Regions from separate parts of the Homo sapiens genome. Here region 2 is linked to region 1. The links come from fine-mapping of genetic effects on gene expression. A gene starts in region 1. The other region holds a variant in brackets. All regions are shown on one strand. Distances are between the middles of the regions. Region 1 holds the start of ANO2 (anoctamin 2). Region 2 overlaps ANO2 (anoctamin 2).

Evidence for each region.
Region 2: its variant is fine-mapped to the expression of ANO2 in lung (TOPMed, PIP above 0.99).

What each region holds. Positions count from the first base shown.
Region 1 is chr12:5,942,936-5,948,164 of GRCh38, forward strand. It overlaps ANO2 (anoctamin 2), which reads right to left and starts at 2,324. Exons shown (of 25, transcript NM_001364791.2): 1 at 2,261-2,324. The coding sequence starts at 2,282.
Region 2 is chr12:5,921,858-5,927,086 of GRCh38, forward strand. ANO2 (anoctamin 2) reads right to left here. Exons shown (of 25, transcript NM_001364791.2): 2 at 763-947. Among named protein-coding and RNA genes, the nearest start is that of ANO2, 21 kb to the right of the region's middle. The variant G/A (reference allele first, on the strand shown) is at 2,377.

The DNA.
Region 1 (5,229 bases):
GGCTATAACTAAGAAGTCAAAAATTTTACTAGATGTCGGCATGGATGTGATGAAAAGGGAACACTTTAACACTGCTGCTGAGAATGTAAACTAGTACAACCACTATAGAAAAACAGTATGGAGAGTCTTTAAAGAACTAAAAGTAGAACACCATTAGATCCAGCAATCCCACTACTGGGCATCTACCTAAAGAAAATGAAGTCATTATATAAAAAAGACACATGCACATGTATGTTTATAGCAGCTCAATTCACAATTGCAAAGATAGGGAACCAACTTAAATGCCCATTAACTAAAAAGTGAATAAAGAAAATGTGGGATGTCTGTGTTTGAGTGTGTGTTTGTGTGTGTGTGTGTGTGTGTGTGTGTGTGTGTGTGTAATACTACTCGGCCATGAAAAGAAACAAAATAAGTCTTTTGCAGCAAATTGGATGGAGCTAGAGGCCATTATTGTAAGTGAAGTAACTCAGGAATGGGTAACTAAATATCATATGTTCTCATTCATAAGTGGGAGTTATGCTATGAGGATGCAAAGACATAAGAATGATATCATGGACTTTGGGGACTCAGCGGGTAAGGGTGGGAGGAGGGATAAGGGATAAAAGATTACATACTGGGTACAATGTACACTGCTCGGGTGAGGAGGCACTAAAATCTCAGAATTCACCACCAAAGAACTTACCCATGTAACCAAAAGCAAAACCCCGTACCCTAAAAACTACTGACATTTTTAAAACAATTTTTAAACAATACAGATGGATTATACCGTGTACTAGAGACAATAACACCGTCCCTAGCAGCCAAATACCTGCTATGCATGTGCTCTAGCAACGTCATACATAGGGTGGGATGGGCTTCTCTCAGCCCACAGAATGGGTAGCTTTCCAGAAAATTAGGTCTTTGTTACAGAAAATTATAGACACACTCCCCAGTAGGCCCAAATGCCTCTCACCCTGCAGCCTTGCCCCACAATGGAAGATGAAGAGATGGCACACCTGGAAACTGGACTAGAACTTGAGGTGTGTGTTTGGATCCCACCCTTACCCCTCACACAGTCTCTACAGTCAACCAGCAGAGTGGCTCTGGTACCCACATAGAGGCAACTCAGACAGCAGAAGCAGTTGCTGGAAAGGATCGAATCAGGTGCTTGGCTCCGGAAATGACGGGTGCACGTTAAGACACACTGAGAGGAGCAAATGAGCCCTGGATGCCCAGCAGCTGAGCCAGGGTGACAGAGAGACTGGGCAGGGGCTCTGATGCCAGGTTCCAAGGACAAAGGCTCGGCAGGTGGAGGGCCAAGAGGACCACAGTCCTCTGGAAGCACCTTCACCTTGTCTAAGATCCTCCCTCCACCTGCCACCTGCCTTTGGGCTGAGACCCGACCTTGCTCAGTGGGACCTTCTGTCCCAGACGAGGTTCCACATGGTCCCGGGGTGGTATTTCTCCACATCTGCTCACAAAGTATCAGGACTGTGACTGACACCACCTCCCAGTGCACTCAGCTCATTGTTCATGCCAAAGGAGCGGGCACCTCCCTCTTCATGCCTGTCTCAAGAATTACCAGAAACACAACAGCCGACAAAGTCCCTGTCCCAGGCAAAGTCAGTCCTGCCCAAAAGCAATAAAATAACGTCTTTCTTCTCCATACTCCACCTCAATTTGCTTTTCTTCTAAGAAAAGTCCCTCGGGAAGGTATAGCTGTGTTTCCCTGCAGCCTGGGGTGTAAATGCCTGATCTTGGAACCCTTCCTGAATGCGGTTTTGGGTAAGACACTGGAAAAAACTTCTGAAACTGAGAGGCCACTCCAGGGATGCCAAAGTCAAATTTGCTCTGTCCTCAGCGGACCGTTGCTGAGTTAAACCCAGTCCGGCTGGTTGTTTACTTATTGTTTACTTACCTTCAGATGCTGTAGGCTAAACGTCCCCAGGACTTGTAACAAGGAGAGGCAACATCACAGAGGTGGGGATTGGTAACCAATCACAGAGAAGCGGCCGCCCAAACCTCTGTTGTCCTACCTTCCCTCTCCTTGAGTTAAAAAAAAAACAAAACAAAACAAAAAACAAAAAACGTCTCGGAAATTACATAGACGTCCCTCAGAGTCCCTACCCTGGAAAAACGGGGTCAACTTCCCGCACCACCCTGCCCAGGCTCCCTTGGGGGTCCCCAATCCCGAAGGGTGGGAGTTCGGATGCCGCCTCCTTCACTCCCTCCCTCCTACCACCTGTAGGAGACCAGGACCAGGTCCAGCCGGAAAACTCACCGCGCGGCCCGGGAGTCGCCATGATGTGGACGCAGACCCCGCCGGCCCGCGGCCGCGCGCTTCTGGGCAGGCTTATGCCGCCGCGGGGCTAATTCCATCGCGGCTCAGCTCCGTCCCGGCGCGCCCGCCCCTCGCCGGCTGCCGCCTCCTCCTCCCCCATCCCTCCCGGCCGCCGGCGCCGCGCAGCCACAGCCCAGCTCTCCCCGCTGCGCCCTGGGCGCCCGGGTGCTGGGAGCGGGGCGTCGAGAATGGAGCGCGGTCCCGCGGCCGGGTTGAGTCCAGGACACACTCGGGTCCGTGGGGCTGAGGGGCGAGACAGTAAACGCTCCCTGCTCCCCCAGAGCCGGGGCAACGCCCCACAACCTGCTTCGAGTGTAAAAATTCAGTCGGATTATCTCATGAACTGTCTGGCTGATTAGTTTCCAATCCTGCCAGCAAAACCTTCTTCCCGCCGCCCCAAAGGGTCATCCACTGCCCAAGAGTTAGCCCTGGGGCGGGAGTGGGGGCGAGCCCCTGGACGGCGGATCTCCCACACCTGTCTCCATACTAGGTGGAGACCAGCTGTCCTCACCTTCCCCTAGGTTAAGCAGAACAAAAGGGAGAAGAGGCAGGTAGTAAGTGCACAAGGGACCGCAAAACAGGAGGGGCTGCCAGAGGCAGGAGGAGGGGTCCATTTTACAAGAGCTCTCCCATGAGACGCTAGGAGGGTTAAGGAAGGTTGAGGGAGTAGATGATGGAAGCTCCATCCCCAGAGGGGAAGAGGAGTGCCATCTCCCCGGGACAGTTCACGGACCTGGGCAGGGGGATGGGAGGGAAGACCTCCAAAGGGCCCTTCTGCACGATGGAATCTGCAACTCCAAGATGCACAGAAGTAAAACAAGTTCATTAATACCATGGACCCCCAAAATGAAGAAGTACTATGTTAAGGTCAAGTATGCCATTTGTGATCACTGACCTTCAGGCATGAAGATTTTCTCTCCTATATTGATAAGGTAGGCTGGTCATGATAGATCCCACTTTATAGAGAAGGAGCCTGGGGAAGCAAAGGGGAGTAAGTGACACCACAGTCGAGGGCAGAGCAGAAGGAAAACCACAAGATGTGATGTCCCAACCCAGGCCTTTATTCCATCCACTGCAAGTACTACCAGCTAATGCTTCTACAGGACTTCCTCTCCACCCAACACCCTTCTCAGTGCTTTCCCTATGGTAGTTATTTTAATCCTAACAATAAGTATATGAGGCAATCACTGCAGTGTGCCCATTTTACAGATGAGAGAACTGCAGTGTTAAATGGCAAGTAACTTGCCTCTAAGAGGATCCTAGGATTCCAAAGCAGGCAGCCTGCCCTGGAGTCTGTGGCATAACACTCTGCTATTCTGCTCCTTTCTGTCCCTAACAACCCCTTTCTCCCTGTCTACTTCCAGGGACCGTTATCATGTCTTTTCAATCCCCAAACGATTGAAAAATGGTCACCATTGCTCTTTCATTCATTCCCTTTCTTCTTTCCCTCCAGCAGTTTCTTAGTGTCTATATACTCCTTCCTTGAGACTCCCCTTAAAACATCCACTTTGGGGCACTCTGTCTTGCCTGGTCTGAGGGTGAGTAAAAAAGAGGGTCCCTGAAACCAGGTACAGATAGTGCCTTTGGAATACCTGTAAATAAAAGAAGACTGCCGAGACACCGCTCCGCACACACTAGCCCCACAAGTTTCTCTTCTTGCATCCTTTTTACCCAGCTCTCTTCCATCGTTTTGGGTTTTTTTAAAATAATCAAAACATGCAGTTTTCCGATTCAGCTTTTTTCTTGACGGTAAAATGACATATCAGTAAACATGAGAAGTTCAAGCTAGCAAGACACAGGCAGTTGGAAAATCAACCACCTATGCTGCAGTGGTAGCCTAGCCTTCCTGCTGAATTTCTCCAGAGCTGATGCCTCCAATAACACCTTGTCCCCAGCTAGAGTGTTAGGCGATCAGTCAGAAGAGTGACAGTTAATTCCCTGTCCCTGGATCTGGTTTCCTACCAAGAGAGACCTTAGAGGCTACCCAAAGTTGGGAGTGGGGTGATGGATGGAGAGACAGTAACCTTTGAATTACTGAGTAGTTACATAAAACTTCTATCCATTCTTCCTTCCTTCTGCCCCACTAAACTCCCCACCAAGCCTACTCAGCATAATCTATGCCATTTTCCTGTAATGTGGCTTCTCTTAAGGTTAAGCTCAGGCAGTAACAGAAGTGGTGGGAACTTAAGGGTGCAGCAGTCACTGGTCCCCATGTCAGCACGGGAGGAGTGTAAGCAACAGGGATGGTGTGGCTCTGATGGGGTGGCCTGGGAGTTCTTATGCAGGTGTCAAGTCACCTGGGTTCTGAACCTGGCCCTGCCACCCAGCAGTTATGACCTTTGGCAAGTCACTTGAATTCTCTGAGCTGCTTTCATCACTTGTAAAGGAGTGGAGGAGGGACAGTGGACTAGATGATGTCTAAGTCCCTTTTGATTCCATTATCCAGTACTTTCAATGAGCTGAGTCTCTCCTGTGTCAAAAGTATTTGGAATGAAAATCAATTCTTCATCAAATTCTTGTAATCCAGGACATCCCCTTCTTTCTCATGGGTATTCTCCCCAGCAAGAGTCCCCACCATCTTGCCAGCATGTACATGAAAATTCTTCCATACATTTTAAGGAAGGACCATCTCTAACTGCAAGTGACAGTACCAGTTAGTGATTTGGGGACTGGATGATGTTTGGTGTTATCTACACCACTTCCTCTTCCACTGAAGGATGTCTGGAGTATGTAGGACCTTGGCATCAAGCATAAAGCCTGATAGAAACCCAGCCGGTCCAGCCCTCACCACAAAGGAAATCTCTAATGCTCTGCTGTTAACATTAGAGTCTCTTATTCCCTACCGAAAGCCTTGATCTCCCCATTGTTATTCTCGCCACTTCTTACATGATTACAGAGCAATTTACAGT
Region 2 (5,229 bases), 21 kb before region 1:
CAGGCACCATGGCCCACACACGCTCACCTCCTTGCAGATCTGCACCTCTGCCTGCAGATACACTATATATTTAAACACAGAATACTCACAGGCAGGTTCTCTGGATCCATTGGAACAAAGACCAATTTCTAGTCACCAGACCCGACCCCTACCCTCCCACCCACGGGAATTCACCAGGCACTATTCACAGCCCCACATCCTCCTCTCCAGCCACTGGTGAGGGCCCTTTCAAAGACAGCAGCAGGGAACTGACTTCTGCTGTCTTCCACTCCAGAGGTGGGGAGGTGGAAAGAAGAGGAGGAGAGAGAACACGATGAAGCAGGGGAGGGACCGGCCTCTCCCCGTGGGTGTTTCCCTGTTTATTACTGGTTTGAAACCCAGCTGCCTCTGCAGCCACCTGAGAGGTCACCTGGGCAACCAGATGAAGCTCCAGGCACAAGGGAGAGACTCAGAGCCACCATAGCAGAGAAGACAGTTGCTCAGGCTTGCAGGAGGGGAACCAGGGGGCCTGCAGACCAACTGGCAGCATCGACTGGCCTCCCACGCCTCCTCCTTTCCTGACCCTCCTCTGACCAGAACAGGGCACTGGGAAAGTGTGCCTGACTTGGAGACAGAGAAGAGAAAAGGCCCTACCCAAACCTAGGTCTCTCTCTTTCACGCACACATGTGCTCCCAACTGGAGGATCCCCCAGACCAGAGGCTCCTTGGTGGCCTGCAACAGGGCTGGCCTATCCCCCCACCCCACCCCCGCCCAGTACTCACAGAGCTGCTGCGGGTGCTCTCTCCACCGCAGGGCTGGCCAGGATCTCTGTTGGAACCGCCCTGCAGACCTGGGGCCCGGGGACCTGGCATCTTGAGACACTGCTGTCCATGTTTGGGGCCCTGGCCCCCTCTGGACCCTGCCTGAGGGCTCAGCCGGCGTGGGGAGCCAGGGAGCAGGGGTATATCTGTGAGAGGGAAAGACAAGGGAGGCAAAACAGCCTCAGGTGAAGGAAATCCAAGACACTGAGGTACTGAGTGTACTCAGACACTAGCCCTGAGAAAATGGCCCATTTTGCTTCACAGCTGCCTCCTTGGTTAGTCCCTAAAGCCCAGGTTCACACTGACCACAAGGAAGGGAGCATGGAAAAGGAAGTGCGGCCCCCCGACTGCATACACACACGCACACACACATACACACACATGCACGCACACACACCCACATACACACACACATGCACACATACACACACACACGCACACACATACACACACATGCACGCACACACACCCACATACACACACATGCACACATACACACACGCATACACACACACGCACACACACATACACACACACGCACGCACACACACCCACATACACACACACATGCACACATACACACACGCATACACACACATACACACACACACACACACACACGCACACACACAGCGTGGAGCCACCAGCAGGAGCTCCTTCGGATCATGGCTGTCATAATCTCTCATAATTCCCAGATAAGAAAGGGGTGGCATTGAGCAAGTCAGGGTGGTGGGGGGGCACTGCCTGGAGAGACACCTTGAATTAATACCAAAGGCTTAGGCTTTGGGCCTCTCCCGTGGCAGCAGCACCAGCTGGCACCCTGGCCAGCCCCCACCTCCCTCGGGGAGAGAGCAAGGACAGACCAAGGGGGTCCTCTGAACAACTGAACAAAGGACTGTCCTCCAGTGTCCTTTCAGGGTCCTCACGCACCTGCTGCCTCTACCCAGGCCCCAGAGGTCTGCAGCCCCTTCTCGGCAGGAATGCAGGACCACTTCAGAAAAATTCCAGTGTCTCCCCTGAAGGGAAAAGTCCCCAGTAGGTGATGGAATGACTGCATGCTAGAATTGGAGGGAACTGAGAGAGTAGATAGTCCAGCTGCACTTTGTACAGACCCCACTGGAACCGCGAGTTGCCAAGGTCTCAGCGCAGGTCAGACTCAATCTATTCTCTCCTCTGAGAAACACTTCCTAGAAAAGCAACACAGCCAGTGCCCAGGCTTAAACCTCAGCTCTGCCACTTGCCAGCTCTAAGACCTCTTTGTGCTTGTTCTCTAGCTGTAAAATGAGAATCTCAAACTTGCAGGATTGCAGTGAGAATGAGAATAAGATAATGCCTGCAAAGCACCCAGAGCAGTGATTAGCCTGACGGCATGTGATCAAAGGCTGTGATTAGAATCGTTAGTGTTTGCATTTTAACCTCCAAGTGAGCAGAAGTAACACCTTATGTCTCCAACTCAGCCCTAAGCACCTGCTCAGTGAATGAATGAACAAAAGCAACTCTTCCAGTCTGTTGAAACAGAACTCCCGGCCCTTTGCCAACTTGTGGAGCAGCCCCTTAGGTGCTCAGCCCTCCAGC[G/A]CAGTTTCAGGGGTCCTAGAACATTCGGTCCCTGCACTTGAGAAACATAATCTCTTTATGAAGACAGAGCTGACATGCAGGAAACACAACTGTGACCAGCAGAGGAAAGCTTTCATCATTCCTTTCTATACTGTGGGTTCTAGTCCACACTGTGGGAGACCAGAAAGACTAAGTCAAAGTCGGCTTCTGGGGTAACTGAGCCAGAGCTGGGTCCTGGAGGGTGGGTAGCTTCTGAAAGGCCAGGAGGCACGGGAGGCACTCCCTAGGGAGACAGCACAGAAGGGCAGGCGTGGGCACACCTTGTGGGAGGAAAATGAAAACTCAGGACCCCATATCACTCTGCCGAAAGGAAAATATTAAGCCGAAAGCTGAGTCAGGCAAGACGCTGCCTTTCCTTTTGTTCCTAAGCAGACAGCTACAGATAAAAGGCTAGATAGCTCCACAGGCAGCTACTCTATATTCACCTTGTCCAAAGCGCAAGATGAATACATCATTGATAATTCCCTAACTGCTCCTTTTCTCTTGCAACATGCAGATTCCCACAGCCTCCCTCTTTCCCCCACAGCCTGCTTTTCCCCGTTAAATATTGAAGCCCTCAAAATGATCTTTGGAGAAAGACACAGACCTCTCTTCCAACCACATTCTTAACGTTGGCAAAATAAACGGAATTGATTGAGGCCTGTCTCAGATATTTTTTGGTTTACATGTGATGGGGCTCAGGCTCAGGGCTCTAAAAAAGGGGCTTCCTCCCTTGTGCCCAATCTCGCCTCCTCCCACTTCCCTTGTGCCTTCCTGCATGCCTGCCCCACAAGTGCCTGAGAACAGAACTTGGAACAGAAGGACTCTACCCCAGAGAAGACCTGGAAACCTCTAGATGCATGTCTAAAAAGCCCAAGACCACTGGATACATCACTGGGGAACATGATAAAGATGATGTTCACTCAAGGGCCACCCTACCCTGGCAGCTACATTCAGATTTGCACCTGTGGCTCAGAGTAGCTCAGATTCAAGGGCAATGCAAAGCTTTGGTCCAGCTGCTGTCCAGGAACCACCATCCCCTAAAGGTGCCACCTGGAGTTTGAGGCTGACATTCAGGGCCCTCACTAGCCATCGCAGTTGCTCCCCCGGCTCGCTCTCTGACACACGGATCCGGCTGCCTGGGAACTCTGCTTCCCTTCTCTCCCTCTCCCCACAAGTGATTAGAGCACAGCACACGGTTCAGCCATCCCAGCCGTCCCAGCTCTGGAGAGGCACTCCAGGCAATAAAGACACAAGGGAGCCACCTTCAGACGTGAGAGGAAGGCCAAGGGGAACGCGAGTGACGCCTGCCCTCAGGAAGGGGAAGGGTGAGGCAGGTGAGCACACACCTTGAGAACTCCCTAAGAAGCTTAGAAGAGGTGAATGAGGTCAATTAGAAGGAAAGGCCATCGTACACAGCCCGTGGAACATGTCACCCATTTGGAAAGAATCTTTCCTTCCTTCACCGTTGCCTTGGCTCTCCTTCCACGCTGCCTTGAACAACAGATCCTTGGGTGTTCATAACTGCAATGCCGTGAGGGTGGGGGCATGGCTTACCCACGTCTGGGTTGAGGAGATGGATGTCGTAAGGCTGGGGCCTGGGCCTTTCTCCACGTTCCAGCTCTCTCCCTGGGCACTCTCATCCACTCCAGAGACCTTCATTGTCACCTATTGCTGACGACACTTAAGTTTCACTCTAACTCTTGCTCTCCTGCAGGCACCAGGTCCACACATTCCCCTGCCTGCTCAGCATCTACACTTGGATGTTTCCCAGCCCCTCAAAGTCAACATGCCCAAATCCAAACATACGATCTTCTCCAAAACAGGATTCTTTTTCAGCATTTCCTGCTCCTGCAAATGCTCCACCAAACAGTCAACGAGCTGGAAATCTAGAAGCAGCCTTGATAGCTGTTCTTCCTCATGCCCCATGTCCAATTTGGTACCGATCCTATAAACTTTACCCCTGAAATGTCTGCCAAACCCCTCTGTTCTTCACCCTTCCATGAGTCCCACCCTAGTGCCAGCTGTCAGCCTCCTTCCCCTGGAGGACGGCGATGCCCTCCTAACAGATCTCCCTGCTCCCTGTCCCTGTTCCCCACAAGGCAGCCAGGGGTCCTTACAAACATCCATCTGGCCAGGACACCCTCAAGAGCACAAACTTATGGGGCTCCCATGGCTCTCGGGCTGGGACTCTGCATTCTGCCCCGCCAGTCTCCACCCCCTCTCTCCTGCTGGCTCCCTGGGGTCCCGCCATACACCTCTGCTCTAGCACACCAGCTCCCCAGCCCAGCATCCTACATGCATTCTTCCCGCTGCCTGGACCATGCTTCCCTACACACTCTTCATCTAGTTGTGGGCCACCTACTATTTTGGTCCTTAGGGACCCAGAAAATCCAAAGCAATCCATTCTTGCTTCAAAAAGCTGCTAATCAAGGTGTAAGACTGGAATATTCAGATACTACTAAGAAAGCTAATTTCCTTCCAACCTAGACATGAGTAAGGTTCCACAAGTTGGGTTGTGCAGGATTGGGAGGAGGTGCAGGCCACGAGGACCCATGTGATGTTGCCGGAGGAAGGCCTCACCACCAGCACCCTGCCCCAAGACAAACCCTTTCTCTGAGCTTAGTTTTTACTTCGGTGATTTGGGAGAAGGTGTCATTATTATATCTTTTCCTCATAAAGTGAGTGTGATGATACAGTAAGAGAAAAGATTAACATTCCTTGGAAGTACATGAGCTATGAAAAATGCACAGGATAATTATCAAACCCTACTTCAGGACGTCCATGCTGCCTCCTTCATCCGTCTCTTCTCCACTTCATTCCAGCTGCTCTGCT